Homo sapiens: one gene and its partners. The protein of the gene in region 2 purifies or fractionates together with the protein of the main gene of each other region. This does not show direct contact. Each region holds a gene or a part of one and is shown on either strand. Other genes may lie near its edges.

The links.
Region 1: the proteins of ELAVL3 (region 2) and SART3 purify together in Homo sapiens (affinity purification with mass spectrometry, with the first as the bait; one large-scale study listed by BioGRID). This does not show direct contact.
Region 3: the proteins of ELAVL3 (region 2) and MOV10 purify together in Homo sapiens (affinity purification with mass spectrometry, with the first as the bait; one large-scale study listed by BioGRID). This does not show direct contact.
Region 4: the proteins of ELAVL3 (region 2) and RIMS1 purify together in Homo sapiens (co-immunoprecipitation; one large-scale study listed by IntAct). This does not show direct contact.

What each region holds. Positions count from the first base shown.
Region 1 is NC_000012.12:108,540,674-108,544,173, forward strand, and holds part of SART3 (spliceosome associated factor 3, U4/U6 recycling protein), read right to left. Parts: intron 2,480-3,500; coding exon 2,355-2,479; intron 2,172-2,354; exon of another isoform or gene 2,139-2,171; coding exon of another isoform or gene 2,097-2,138; intron 1-2,096. UniProt on the Homo sapiens protein: U6 snRNP-binding protein that functions as a recycling factor of the splicing machinery. Promotes the initial reassembly of U4 and U6 snRNPs following their ejection from the spliceosome during its maturation.
Region 2 is NC_000019.10:11,460,547-11,464,046, forward strand, and holds part of ELAVL3 (ELAV-like protein 3), read right to left. Parts: intron 1-3,500. UniProt on the Homo sapiens protein: RNA-binding protein that binds to AU-rich element (ARE) sequences of target mRNAs, including VEGF mRNA. May also bind poly-A tracts via RRM 3. May be involved in neuronal differentiation and maintenance.
Region 3 is NC_000001.11:112,684,659-112,688,158, forward strand, and holds part of MOV10 (helicase MOV-10), read left to right. Parts: intron 1-2,307; exon of another isoform or gene 2,308-2,448; intron 2,449-3,500.
Region 4 is NC_000006.12:72,250,050-72,253,549, reverse strand, and holds part of RIMS1 (regulating synaptic membrane exocytosis protein 1), read right to left. Parts: intron 3,221-3,500; coding exon 3,090-3,220; intron 2,630-3,089; coding exon 2,458-2,629; intron 2,336-2,457; coding exon 2,182-2,335; intron 790-2,181; coding exon 718-789; intron 1-717. UniProt on the Homo sapiens protein: Rab effector involved in exocytosis. May act as scaffold protein that regulates neurotransmitter release at the active zone.

The DNA.
Region 1 (3,500 bases), on a different chromosome or scaffold from region 2:
GAGGAAAAAGGTGGATGGGACTCACCCTATCCAAGAGCAAAACATTATAACTCTCATCATTACAACAGTGTAACATAAACCAGTGGGACAGAACAGAAAATCCAGAAGAAAGACCCACACATAAATGGACAGCTAATCTATGACAGATGTGGCACTGCACATCAGTGAGGGGAAGAAGGAATGATCAAACTCAGTACTAGAACAACTGGTTCTCCATATGGAAAAATGAAACCAGACGCAGTCTCATACCACTCAAAAATCAATCCCAGGTGGATGAGGGCCTAAATATGAAACAGAAAACTATAAAACTTTTAGAAGAAATTAGAGCTAAGTAGGGAATATTTTTTAAATAAGCACAACAAAAGCACAACCAAAAGGGAAAGAATTTTAATCTAATTGATCACTAAGAACTGTTCATCAAAAGACACTGTTAAAAAATAAAAAAGTGAAAAGGCAGTTGCAGTGACTCACGCCTGTAATCCCAGCCCTTTGGGAGGCTGAGGCAGGTGAATCACCTGAGGTCAGGAGTATGAGACCAGCCTGGCCAACATGGCGAAACCCCGTCTCTACTAAAAATACAAAAATTAGCGGGGCTTGGTGACAAGGGCCTATAATCCCAGCTAATTGGGAGGCTGAGGCAGGAGAATCGCTTGAACCTGGCGGGGCGGAAGTTGCAGTGAGCCGAGATCACGCCACTTCACTCCAGCCTGGGTGAAAGCGAAACTCCAGTCTCAAAAAAAAAGAAGTGAAAAGACAAACAACTGGGGAGAAAATCTGCAACACATACAGCCTAAAATAAGACTTAAGACAAAGCACTCCCACAAATCAATTAGAAAAAAGATACATCAAAAGGGAAATGGGTCAAAGACTTTTTTTTTTGAGACGGAGTCTCACACTGTTGCCCAGGCTGGATGGAGTGCAGTGGTGCGATCTCGGCTCACAGCAACCTCCACCTCCCGGCTTCAAGCGATTCCCCTGCCTCAGCCTCCCAAACAGCTGGGATTACAGGCGCCCGCCACCATGCCCAGCTAATTTTTTGTATTTTTAGTAGAGACGGGGTTTCACTATGTTGGCCAGGCTGGTCTCAAACTCCTGACCTCATGATTCACCTGCCTTGGGCTCCGAAAGTGCTGGGATTACAGGCATGAGCCACCCCGCCCGGCCCAGACTTTTTTTTAAGAAATAGGGTTTTGCTTTGTCACTTAGGTGACAATGCAGTGGCATGATTACAGCTCACTGCAGCCTTGACCTCCTGGGCTCAAACAATCCTCCTACCTTCGCCTCTGGAGAAGCTGGGACTACAGACACATGCCACCAAGCCCGGCTTTTTTTTTTTTTTTTTTTTTTTTTTTTTGGTAGAGACAGGGTTGTGCTACGCTGCCAGGCTGATCTCAAACTCCTGGGCTCCAGCAATCCTCCCGCCTTGGCCTCCCAAAGTGCTGGGATTATAGGCATAAGCCACTGTGCCCAGCCTGAACACTTTAACACGCACAAAAATTTGAATGGCCAATCCACGTGAAAAGATGCTCAACTTCATTAGTAACCAAGAAAATACAAATTAAAACTACAATTTCAAATTCATCAAATTAAGTAAAATTTAAGTATGACCAATATCCAAGATTGGCACAAGCAACGAGAACTCTCAGATACTGCTCACAGCAGTGCAAACTGATAACCTGGAAAACACTTTAACATCACCCTATGATCCAGCAAAGTCATTCCTAAGTACGTATTCTAGAGAAACTCTTTTTCATGTGTACAAGGAGATACACACAAGAATGTTCAGAGTGGCGCTGCTCCTTCTCCTAGCAAAAACCTGGAAATGACCCAACTATCCAGCAACATGGATAAATACATCGCAGTACACAGACAACTTTACAGCAGTGAAAACAAATGCACCGGAGTTATACTTAGCAACATGAGTAAAACCCAAAAGCATGTTCAATGAAAATAAAATATACAGCATGATTCCAATATATAAAAGTTCAAAAGCAAGCAAAATTAAACAATATATTAATTAAGGATACTTTCATAGCTTGTAAAACTATAAAGAAAAGCAAGGGAATTATCATCACAAAAGTCAGGAAAGTGATTACCTCTCGGGAGAGGGAGGAGGAGGCAATCGGAGAGGGGCACATAGGAGACTTCTAAGGTACTGGCAATGTTCTATTTCTTAACCTGGGTGGTAGGTACATGGATGTTCACTTTATTATTAGTATGTAAACTGTACGTATACATTTATACACTCTATATATTTCAGAATAAAACATTTTAAAGATACTGTTTAACTCGCAACTATCCATCAGGGAAAGGTTTGTAGAGAGACGTTTACTATAAAAGAAGCCAACACTTACCAGTGCTTCTTCATAGGGTTTATATTTCTCCAGCTGCTGTAGTGCTTTGTTATAGTTCTGAATTACTGACTCTGGTATTGGGTCTTCTGACCATTCTTCATACTCTGCAAATGTGGCCTCCATATCTATTGAAAGATGGATTCAGCCCCGTGGGTCTTGCCATTGGGCTTTATCAACCCAAACACAGATTAAGCCATGAGACTCAGGTGCCACTAGCCCCTCCCACATCTGTGGCATGGCAGCTCTTACTGATCAAATTCTGATTTCTGCTGAGCCCAAACCTGTCTGTAGAATCTGTCTTAAAACAATGTCCCAGGCAACCCTCCCAGCTAATTAATCAGTCAATGACACTAGTGGCAACGATTTAACAACACTTACCCAGTGTTACCTATGTTCTACCACTTCACATCCACTAACTCATTCAGTCATCCCACTCTACAAGGTAGTCTATTGTGATCCTCATTTTGCAGTTGAGGAAACTGAAGCAGAGGGTTCAGTTGCTCGTCTACAGTTAATGGTAGAGCAAGGCTGTGAACCCAAGCAGTCTGGCTCAAGTTCGCACTCTAATCATTATGCTAGGTTGTTTCACGCTGGTAGGTGAAATCTGCAAGCCGGCTCAGCTCTAGTGTTTTCTGCATGATACCCAACCATTTGATTAGACGACTACTTTATAACTTGTTAAATCCAATAAACCATGAAGAGAAATAACATGTGGGCTCCAGTAAAGTTGCCCAGAGGTTCTGAGTATGTACAACACATGCCCGTGTCTAGGGAACAAACACAACAGCCATGACAAACTCTTCCCATACTCAGAAAAATCCTCCCAGCACGCACACACTCATAGCTCCAAAGACTCAAAGGCTTAGATTGCCAAAATGTATTTACCAAATAAGGAAACTCTTTACCAAACCCCAAGAAACTCACTTATGAGTACTTCCAATCAACTGCACTTCTGAACCAAATCCCTCCCATAGAGGAATGATCTAAACTCATGTAAAATTCCTGCTGTTATGGAAGAGGTTACTTGTGAAGAGAAAATGATTATAATGGAACTCTTGTTCAATGAAGTTTCCCCAAAAAATACAGGTGTCATTCACTATTCCTTTCAGAGACCCTATCTCTGCCCTTCCAACTAGGTCTCAAAGG
Region 2 (3,500 bases):
CCAATTACTGTGTTCCAGCAACTTGAACTTCCCCCATTTTTCCCAAACACACCAGGCATGTCTCAGCCTCAGGGCCCTGGCATTGCCTGTTCTCTCTGCCTGGAATGCTCTTCCTCCTCTTCTTTCTTTGGGTCTCAGTTGAAACATCCTCCCTGTCCTCTCTCATCTAAATTTGTCCTCCCCCCACCACCCCTATTACTCTTTCTCAAAGCACTTCTCCTAACTAGGAATTAGACACATTTTAGCACTGTTATCTGAATCACATTATTAATTATAGTCCAACCCAACAACGAAACTCTCTGCAGGTGTTTAAAAAAATGGTGGGTCAGGTGCAGTGGCTCATGGCTGTAATCCCAGTGCTCTGGAAGTTCAAGGCAGGAGGATCAAGGGAGCCCAGGAGTTTGAGACCAGCCTGGACAATACAGCAAGACTCACCCCCGTCCTCCACCGCCACAACCTCTACAAAAAAAAAAAAAAAAAAAATTAGCTGGGTGTGGTGGTGCACACCTGTGGTCCCAGCTACTCGGGAGACTGAGGCTGGAGGATCACTTGAACCCAGGAGTTAAAGGCTGCAGTGAGCTATGATCACACCACTGCACTCCAGCCTGGGCTACAGAGCAAGACCCTGTCTCTAAAAAAAAAAAGAGAAAAAGATGGACATATATATTTATTTCCCAGAAACGGTGGTGACTGGTGAGTATTGTAAAATGGGGGACAGAAAAGTCTATTTACAAAGCAGGGAATATTGTGTGACCTTGTTTCATTGTGTGTTTATCAATGTCCTGGAAGCATGGTAGGGAAGTCCACCTCTCAAATGCTCAGTGGGTGACCTGTCACCAGGGACTGGGGAAGAGGCTGGGGCGTGGTCATCAGCAATTCTCCCCCTTATGTCTGCTGTATCTATTTTTCCTCCCTCCCTCCCTCCCTCCCTCCCTTCCTTCCTTCCTTCATTCCTTCCTTCTTTCCTTCCACTCTCCCTCCCTCCCTCTTTCCTCCCTCCCTCCTTCCCTTCCTTCCTTTCCTCTTTCTTTTTCTTGTTAAGTGAGGTTTTTGTTTGTGGGTTTGTTTTGAGATGGGGTCTTGCTGTGTTGCCCAGGCTGGAGTACAGTGATGCAATCATGGTTCACCACAGCCTTGACCCCCCCGGGCTCCAGCAATCCTCCCACCCTCGGCCTCCCAAAGTGCTGGGACTACAGGTGTGAGCCTTTGTGCCCAGCCTCTATTTTCTGTTTCTTCTAATTAACCTCTTGATAGATAGGGGTCATTGTCTTCTGGCTTTTGTTTGGGACAGTGAGTTGAGACAGTGAGTTGTGAGAGTGTATGCCTCCATTAGAAATAACTAATTAAAGCTGGGCGCGGTGGCGCACGCCTGTAATCCCAGCATTTTGCGAGGCTGAGGCAGGCGGATCACAAGGTCAGGAGATCAAGACCATCCTAGCTAACATGGTGAAACCCCATCTCTACTAAAAATACAAAAAATTAGCCAGGCGTGGTGGCGGGTGCCTGTAATCCCAGCTACTCGGGAGGCTGAGGCAGGAGAATGGCGTAAACCCAGGAGGCGGAGCTTGCAGTGAGCCGAGATCGCGCCACTGCACTCCAGCCTGGGCAACAGAGCGAGACTCCGTCTCAAAAAAAAAAAAAAAAAAGAAATAACTAGTTTAAAAATGAACAAAATAGATAAAGCAGTTTGAGAGTGAATGGGGGGCAGGGTCTGATTAATATAATTTTGTGCACCTGGGGTTCTCCAGAAAAAAAAATCACATCAGCCATTGTCATGTCCATAATAATGATTTTTAAAATCACAGCCAGGCCAGGCACGGTGGCTCACGCCTGTAATCCCAGCACTTTGGGAGGCCGAGGTGGGCAGATCACTTGAGGTCAGGAGTAGGAGACCACCCTGGCCAACATGGTGAAACCCCGTCTCTACTAAAAATGCAAAAATTAGCCGGGCGTGGTGGCGGGCGCCTGTAATCCCAGCTACTCAGGAGGCTGAGGCAGGAGAATCACTTGAACCTGAGAGGCGGAATTGCAGTGAGCCGAGAGCGCACCACTGTAATCCGGCCTGGGTAACAGAGCAAGATTCCATCTCAGAAAAATAAATAAATTAATTAAGAAATAAATCATGTCCATGCTGGGCACGGTGGCTCACGCCTGTAATCCCAGCACTTTGGGAGGCTTGAGGGGGGTGGATGATCTGAGGTTGGGAGTTCGAGACCAGCCTGACCAACATGCTGAAACCCCGTCTCTACTAAAAAAAATACAAAGATTAGCCGTGCATGGTGGCTGGCGCCTGTAGTCCCAGCTACACGGGAGGCTGAGGCAGGAGAATTGCTTGAACCTGGGAGGCAGAGGTTGCAGTGAGCCGAGATCGCGCTACTGCATTCCAGCCTGGGTGACAGAGTGAGACTCCGTCTCAAAAAAAAAAAAAAAAAAGAAAGAAAGAAATCATGTCAATGTATTTGACAGTTTTCTCTTCTTTTTTTCTCTCCCATGGGGCTAGGAGCTGTGAGGGTACTTGCTGATGAATCAGATTTGGGTTGAGGGATTAGATTTGGGGGTAAGATCCTGGGTGGATATTGGAGGTCCAACACCGTCTGAGACACAGAGGAGGTTTTCACAGGCCTTTTCCATCCCTCCATGACATGGGTTTCCCAAGGGCAAGGATGGACCAAACTCCACCCACACCCCACCCTGGGATGGGGCCTGGCCCGCGGCAGGCAGCTGGAGATATTTTGGGCAGCTGCCATAGCGCCCAGTCCTGACTGACCGCGCAACACCGTCACACAGGCAAAAACACCCAGGGACAGACAGAAGGCCATGCAGTGCCGCCCCGCTGCACAGCCTCAGAGATGAAACCAGCCAGAGGGTGACACAGGCCACTGTCACATTCTCAGCAACGTTCAGGAGGGAGTCTCAGAGAATTACAGTGAAGGTCGTAGAACCACATACCCATCACAGCGCAGCACAAACACACGATATCACACTCAATCCCTCAGAGCAGGGCACAGGTAGACACACCCACACAACATCGCGGTGACACACAAACATCCTGCCAGAGCCAGACGCATCCCTGAGGCCCCATCAGGTCACAGCCGGAGTCACAGTGTCACATGCACCTGTCAAATAATAAGCACGTCATCCTGGGCCGGGTGCGGTGGCTCACACTTGTAATCCCAGCACTTTGGGAGGCTGAGGTGGGTGGATCACGAGGTCAGGAGTTCAAGACCATCCTGACCAACATGGAGAAACCCTGTCTTTACTAAAAATACAAAATTAGCCAGGTGTGGTGGCGGGTGCCTGTAATCCCAGCTACTCGGGAGGCTGAGGCAGGAGAATCGCTTGAGCCTGGGAGGCGGAGGTTGCAGTGGGCCGAGATCGCGCCATTGCAATCCAGCCTGGGCAAGAGAGGGAGACTCTGTCTCAAAAAAAACCCCAAAAAATCAAAAAACCAAAAAAAAAAAACCTTATCCTACAGACACATAGGGATATACCCGAAGTCT
Region 3 (3,500 bases), on a different chromosome or scaffold from region 2:
ACCAGCAATTTATGAGTTCACTTTTCCACATACCCATTATAGTAATATATGCTAGAACTATGTTCATTTTTGTCAGTCTAATGGGAATAAAATAATATCTCATTTATACTTTAATTTGCATTTCTCTACATTTGGAGCAGTTTTTCATACTCTTTTGGCCATCTGGATCTGTTCTTTTAATTGAATATTCGATTTTTCTGTTGAATTGTTCATCTTGTCAATTTGTAAGAAAATTTATATATTATAAAAATTAGCCCTTTGCCTGTCATCTGCATTATGAGTATTTATCTGGTATTTATCTGTTGAATGTGTTTATATTACCTTTTGCTAGAGAAAATATTTTTTAGTAGTCAGAAATGTTTGTTTTCTTTTTTAGAGACAGGGTTACCCAAGCTCTGTTAACCAAGCTGGAGTGCAGTGGCGTAATCACAGCTCACTGCAGCCTTGACCTCCTGGGCTCAAGTGATCCTTCTGCCTCAGCCTCCTGAGTAGCTGGGACTACAGGTGTGCACCACCATGCCTGGCTTTTTTTTTTTTTTTTTTTCACTATTGCCCAGGCTGGTCTCAAACTCCTGGGCTCAAGCAGTCCTACCACCTCAGCTTCCCAAAGTGTTGGGATTACAGGCATGAGCCACCACACTTGACCTAGTTTTATTTTATAGCTGCTGGTTTCCAGTCTTGGTTAGAAAGTTTTTCTTAGAAATATAGGGGATTACGGCCGGGCACGGTGGCTCACACCTGTAATCCCAGCACTTTGGGAGGCCGAGGCGGGCAGATCAGGAGGTCAAGAGATTGAGACCATCCTGGCTAACATGGTGAAATTCTGTCTCTACTAAAAATAGAAAAATTAGCTGGGTGTGGTGGCGTGCACCTGTAGTCCCAGCTACTTAGGAGGCTGAGGCAGGAGACTCACTTGAACCCGGGAGGCAGAGGTTGCAGTGAGCCAAGATCGTGCCACTGCCCTCCAGCCTGGTGATAGAGCAAGATTCCGTCTCAATAAAATAAAATAAAATAAAATAAAATAAAATATAAAATAAAATAAATATAGAGGATTACATGTATAATACAAGGATTGGGGCTTTTTTCCGACAAGAATATAATAAGTTTGTGATTTTTTAAAAATAATTTTTGTATGACTGTTACCTAGACCAATGTTAGGTGAATTTGGGTAGTGATGAGAGACATAGAGAATAATTTGAGAAATATTTAGGGATAGCATCTGCAGTAGAATTTGGAAATTTTACAGAGATGAGTTCTGTCTGCCCTTGTGCCATGCAGGTTTTCAAAAATAGGAGGTTTCATGTTAAAATTTTGATTTTGTCTTTTCTTGAAAGTCAGATCTGGCCATCCGGGGCCTGCATTCCCTACTGGCCCCGTTCGAAGATAAGCAGTTACCTGCTTCAGACAGGGCATGCACTTCCCAGTTTGTTCAGTCCCCACAAAGCCCTCTTTCTGCCCAGCATTGATCTGGGAGCCTGGAGCCACTTTTCTTGGAGGTTGCACTTTGTTTTCTTAGCGTTGTGAGGGATATGCATGCAGTATTCTTACACTAGTGACTCTCAAAAATGGACTGAACAGGTGTCTGAAAGGGCTGCAAGGATCAAGATACCTGTGAAGCATAGCTGCTGTAGGCATTAGCTTGTGCCTCGATCCATGGGACTTTGATGGACTCTAAGAAGCCCTTGTGAAAGTTACTGATGATCTCCTGATTTCAGTCCCTGTATTACTGGACCCCTCAGCAGCTTTTGATCCTGATACCTGATTTTGAGACTTTGCTGATTCTCCTTTCTCTCTTGAGGGTTTCTTGTTTTCCCTTCCTCCCCGGGTTGTGCTAGTAGCTGCTCTCAACTACTCACACTCCCTGGGGAGATTCCTACACTTCCTTGATTATAACCACTACCTGGGGACTCCCTAATACTAGGCTGTAACCTTGACTTTGGCCTGAGTTCTCAGCTTCTGACTCGTGGAGCTGGTTGCCTCTGGACCACAGGAATCTCAAACGCATCATATCCAAATCCAAATGTCATGGTCAGTCCCTCCAACCCCTCCTCCTCTTGTCTTACATCCTATCTCAGAGATAGTCCTAGAAGCCAGGCCATTGATTTGGGGATCCTAGACTCATCCCTCTTCCCAGCCTTCATTCCCCCTTCTGTCAGTCACCAAATTTCTGCTAATTTTACATTCTAAGTATTAGCGAATCTTGCCGCTCTTCTTCTGTATCTCTACCCACTGCCTTGCTCAGGCCTTTGTTATCTTTTAACTGGACAATTGCAAGGGCCTTCTTCTAACTGGTCTCCCTGCCTACAGTCTTGCCTCCAGCAAATCCATCCTCCAATCCTGATGCCAGAGTGATCTGAAATGCAAATATGATCTTGCCACTCCCCTGCTTAAAACCCACCAACCGCAGTGGTTCTGTAACCACAGTGTAGCCTCTGACGTGGGCTGAAAGTAAGTTGTTACTACTCCTACTACTACTGCTACTATTAGTACTACTATTTCTACTAATATAAATACTAACAATAGTAGCTAACATTTACTGAGCATTTTCTATTATGCTTTTGAATGATTTATTACCTTTTTAAAACAAATCATAGCCAATTCAATGTTTTCCAAATTGTACCAGTCTCATTTGCTTGGGGTGAAGGAGAGGGGCAGAGTTACAGGCAGCAGGCACCTGAAAAATACTCATAACCATAAATGATCTTATCACATACCCTAGTGAGTGACCATGATGATTTAGCCTGAAGAGTTAAATAGGAATTACCATAGTCCTCATAAACAAAGATTTGCTTTTAAGGGAGGGTGTCAGTCATCTAGATCTTGAATATGTCCCTGAAGTATGTGGCACGTGGGAATGTCCTCAGGCTCCTGGGTATCAGTAGAGCGGGGAAAACGACTGCAGACATGCAGAGTCAAGTCCAGGCTTGGCCTGTTGTGCAAAACTGTCCATGATCTGGTCCCTGCCCACCTCTGCTCCTCCTGCCACTCCCTTCCTTGTGCATTTCACTCTAGCACAATGAAACTGTATGTGATACTAATCATGGCTCACCCTTACTGAGGTCTCCTATGTGCCAAGCACTGTGCTAAGTGGTTCTCTGCCGTGTCAAAATCTCATGTAAACCTCACAGCAACCCTACGAGGTAAGTCTCGCTTTCCTCCAATTTTATAGAGGAGGAAAGCGAGGCTCTGAGAGGTGAGGTCAACTGAGCTGACCTGGCTAGAGTTGTCAAGTGGGCCGCCCCCCTCTGCCCCTCCCTGCACATGTTCTTGCGTACCTCTCACATCTGCTTACACTTCGCGCTCCCTCTTGTGCCCAGGTAATGCCCACTCATCCTCAGGACTCAGTTCTTATGCTGCCTCCTGGGAAGGCCTTCATGGACACCTCCTCTGCCCCCAGACTGGGCTCAGTGTCCCTCTGTGGCACTGAGCCCCTCTGTGGCCGATGAGCTGCCCTCCAAGCACCACGCTGGAATGTATATGTTCAGTCTGTGTGCTCCTCG
Region 4 (3,500 bases), on a different chromosome or scaffold from region 2:
CTCTCATTAGTAAATTTTTAAAAAGTATAGAATTAGTGCCAAGAAAGTAAGTCTTTACCACTTGATTTTACACTTTTCTGACAGAAGTCAGATGAGAAACATTTAAACCCTACAACATCACAAAAGTTTTACTAACTTACACAATGACAAAGAGATGTTCACTTCAAATTAATACTTAATCTTTCTTAAACATATTATTGTATTAAAACATATACACACATTCTAGGTATAATCAGTGGGAACACATCACAAAAGCTTTAAAAGTTACAGCCATGCCACATGCAATTTTAAACCCCGCCATGCACCTTTCTCAGTATATTCCATGGAGGGCTACATTATTTTCAGAAATGGTGGAAGGAAAATCATAGAAATGCAAATATAAAACACAGAAAAATGGAATTTTTATTTAATAACCCCATCTTTTCAAAATAAAATTCGTATTTTCACTTACGCTCAGAGCATTGTGAAATAATGATTTGTTTCACTAGTTAGACATGTTTCTACGGAAGAACCTCACTATGGGAATGCTAATTAGTAGAGACTAGTCCATTTAAAACTTTCTTAATAATTTGAAATGTAAGTCACCATGGAATAATATAATACTGATTTCTCTGTGCTATAAATCTTCAGTTTAGTATCCTAAAGAGGTCCGGAAGCTGACAGAGAAAACAAGCAAAGCAGCACAGTGAAGCAGGGTCATGCTCCTCACCCACGCACCTGGAGGAACTACGCCAATACCATCATCAACCTCATAATCTGAGATGTCACTATCACTGATTCGCTGAGATCCTGCACAACAGTAAGGCAAAGAGATACTTCTGTGTCTGGTTGGTTTATGAAACGTAAAGAGCACTGTCAAACTTTTTTTAAAAAGTGAATTGCATTATTACTGAAAACTTATGAAGACTAATACAGTAAACACTGAGCTAATTTTAAAAGAAATGTTTGTTCTCTAAGGATAACATTTTATCAGTATTTTTTTCCTCATTACACCAAAGACATATAGAAACAAGGGGACTTCACAGAATAAGATTTTCAGATTAATTCTTTAATTAAAATATTATACTAAAAGCCTTCAGCACAGTATATACAGTACATTGTTTTCTACACAATTAAGTGCTTTCCTCTGCAGTTCAGAGAGAATAGGGCTGAGTGGAAAGGTTCAGAGACATTTCTTGGCTGGAGCTCTATTCAGCCTATATTAATGAAAAAACATCAGGGCCCTTTATAAAATATTTATGTTTAGCTCCCCAAATTAGTCATTATACTTCATTAAACATTAACTTTGAGGAAATTACTGATCAGGGAAGCATCAACATGAAATATTTAATTATGTGAGAAAAATAATTTAGTTCCAGATTACCAAAATGAGGCTTCTTTCAGCTGTTAACTTAGAAATGTAGTTATGACACAAAAATTACTCAATAAGTACAGAAAAAAATAGCTTTTCCCAATCACTAGATGAATAGCAATAAACATACCTTCTAATATTTTAAACAACATTTCTTATGAATAACTATTAAAATATCTATGAACTGGCTGGGCATGGTGGCTCACACCTGTAATCCCAGCACTTTGGGAGGCCGAGCCGGATGGATCACAAGGTCAGGAGTTCAAGATCAGGCTGGCCAAAATGGTGAAACCCCATCTCTACTAAATATACAAAAATAAATTAGCCAGGCATGGTGGCGCACTTCTGTAATCCTAGCTACTCCAGTGGCTGAGGCAGGAGAATTGCTTAAACCCGGGAGGTGCAGGTTGCAGTGAGCCGAGATCACGCCAATGCACTCCAGCCTGGGCAACAGAGTGAGACTCTCTCTCGGTGGGGGGAGAAAAAATCTTTGAACTATAAAGTTATTAAGACTTCACAGGTGGCAACTCACCAGTGATGACAGAAATTATTCCATCAGTCAATAACCAACAGCTCAATTGGCCCTGTGCAAGAATTTTAATTCAGAGGTTTTTGGCTTGCAGCTCTGCAATTACTCTGCTATGCTATCTACATTATTTTCATTGTGAAAATGTAGAAACAGTTTTGCCAAGTTGCTTCATAAAGATGAACAATTTTCCAGTATTTTGATCTCTAATAAAACATTTAAAAAAAACATCTTGAATTATTAATCACTAATTAGATCATTACAGCATAATTACTTTGTGGCAACTAAAAGGACCTTAACCTACTTTGTAGCTTTTTGCTAGAGCTTTCTCCATGAATATGTCGCCTTGGCATGAAAGGTGATGGCTGAGGCAGAGGTAGTGAAGACTCATCATGTGTCTGAAGTTTATACCAATGCGGTTCATCATCTAAAAGCGCTGTCTCCAATTCTATGAGGATCTGAGAGGGTAATTCTCAAATTAAATCAAGTACCTTTATCAAAACATAATGTAATAGTAATCATAATAAATATCACAAAACTTTATTAACTATTTGACTTGAGTTTTTAAAATATACATCACCTCTCCAAGAAATTCACTTTCTTCTTCTTGCACTCTTGGTTGGTCCCACACAGTTATTTCTAACATTCGTTCTCTAAAATCTCTACGATGTACATGTGAATAGACAAAAGTTTGATTCCATTTTGGTTCTAGTATTTTCTTTACTGTTTTGGTCCTCCTTTTACTTTTATCACTGAAAAATAAGTATGTTTTGTAAATGAAAAAGCAAGTACATGCTGCCATCTACTGTAGTTACATGTAAAACTGCCATTGATATTTATATTATTTTAACTAATAACTCATGGAAAGTCTATAAAAAGATAATAGAGTTTAATAATATTCTAACTTCAGTTACAATATAAGCAGTATTGTAATTATAGGGACACATACAAAGGTACATTCTAAATGATGTGTCGCTATCAAAGACTAATATACCTATAAACAAGGTAATAGATTTTTTTAATTGACAGATTATTTTCAAATATTTCCAACACAATTTCCAACACTTGAGGGACTTCTTTTTTCAGAGATAATGTACTTTTATCTCCTCAGAATTATCTATTATATTTTTTAAAAACATCCCAAAAGAGAAAATTCTACCTTTTCTATTAGTACAGATTTTAAGATTTTTTTTTTCTAAAATTATTCACTACCTTCTATCTGGAAGAAAATACATTTTTACATAGGGATTTCGAGGACGTCCATCTACTCTAGCAGGTAGATCTGTTGCTTGCAGAACATTTACAATCAGCTGGTGTCCCACTTTATCATACCACAACTTCACCTAGGAGCAATGAGGAAAGGAATTATTTGTAAAAATCATGAGGCATTACAATTTTACATAAAACAAAATTCAAGTTATATTTAAATGAGGAAATTTTGAATTACAATATAATGCAATTACAGATATTTCTAAAAACACACCAATTTGAAAGCATAAACACACAGAACTTTACTTTTCTCTTTGAGTACTTTAAACATAACCTACAACTGGCAGGCCTTCAGTGTTACTGTATATTCTCACATATCATTTTATAAAATAAAACTAATAATAATTTTTCCAA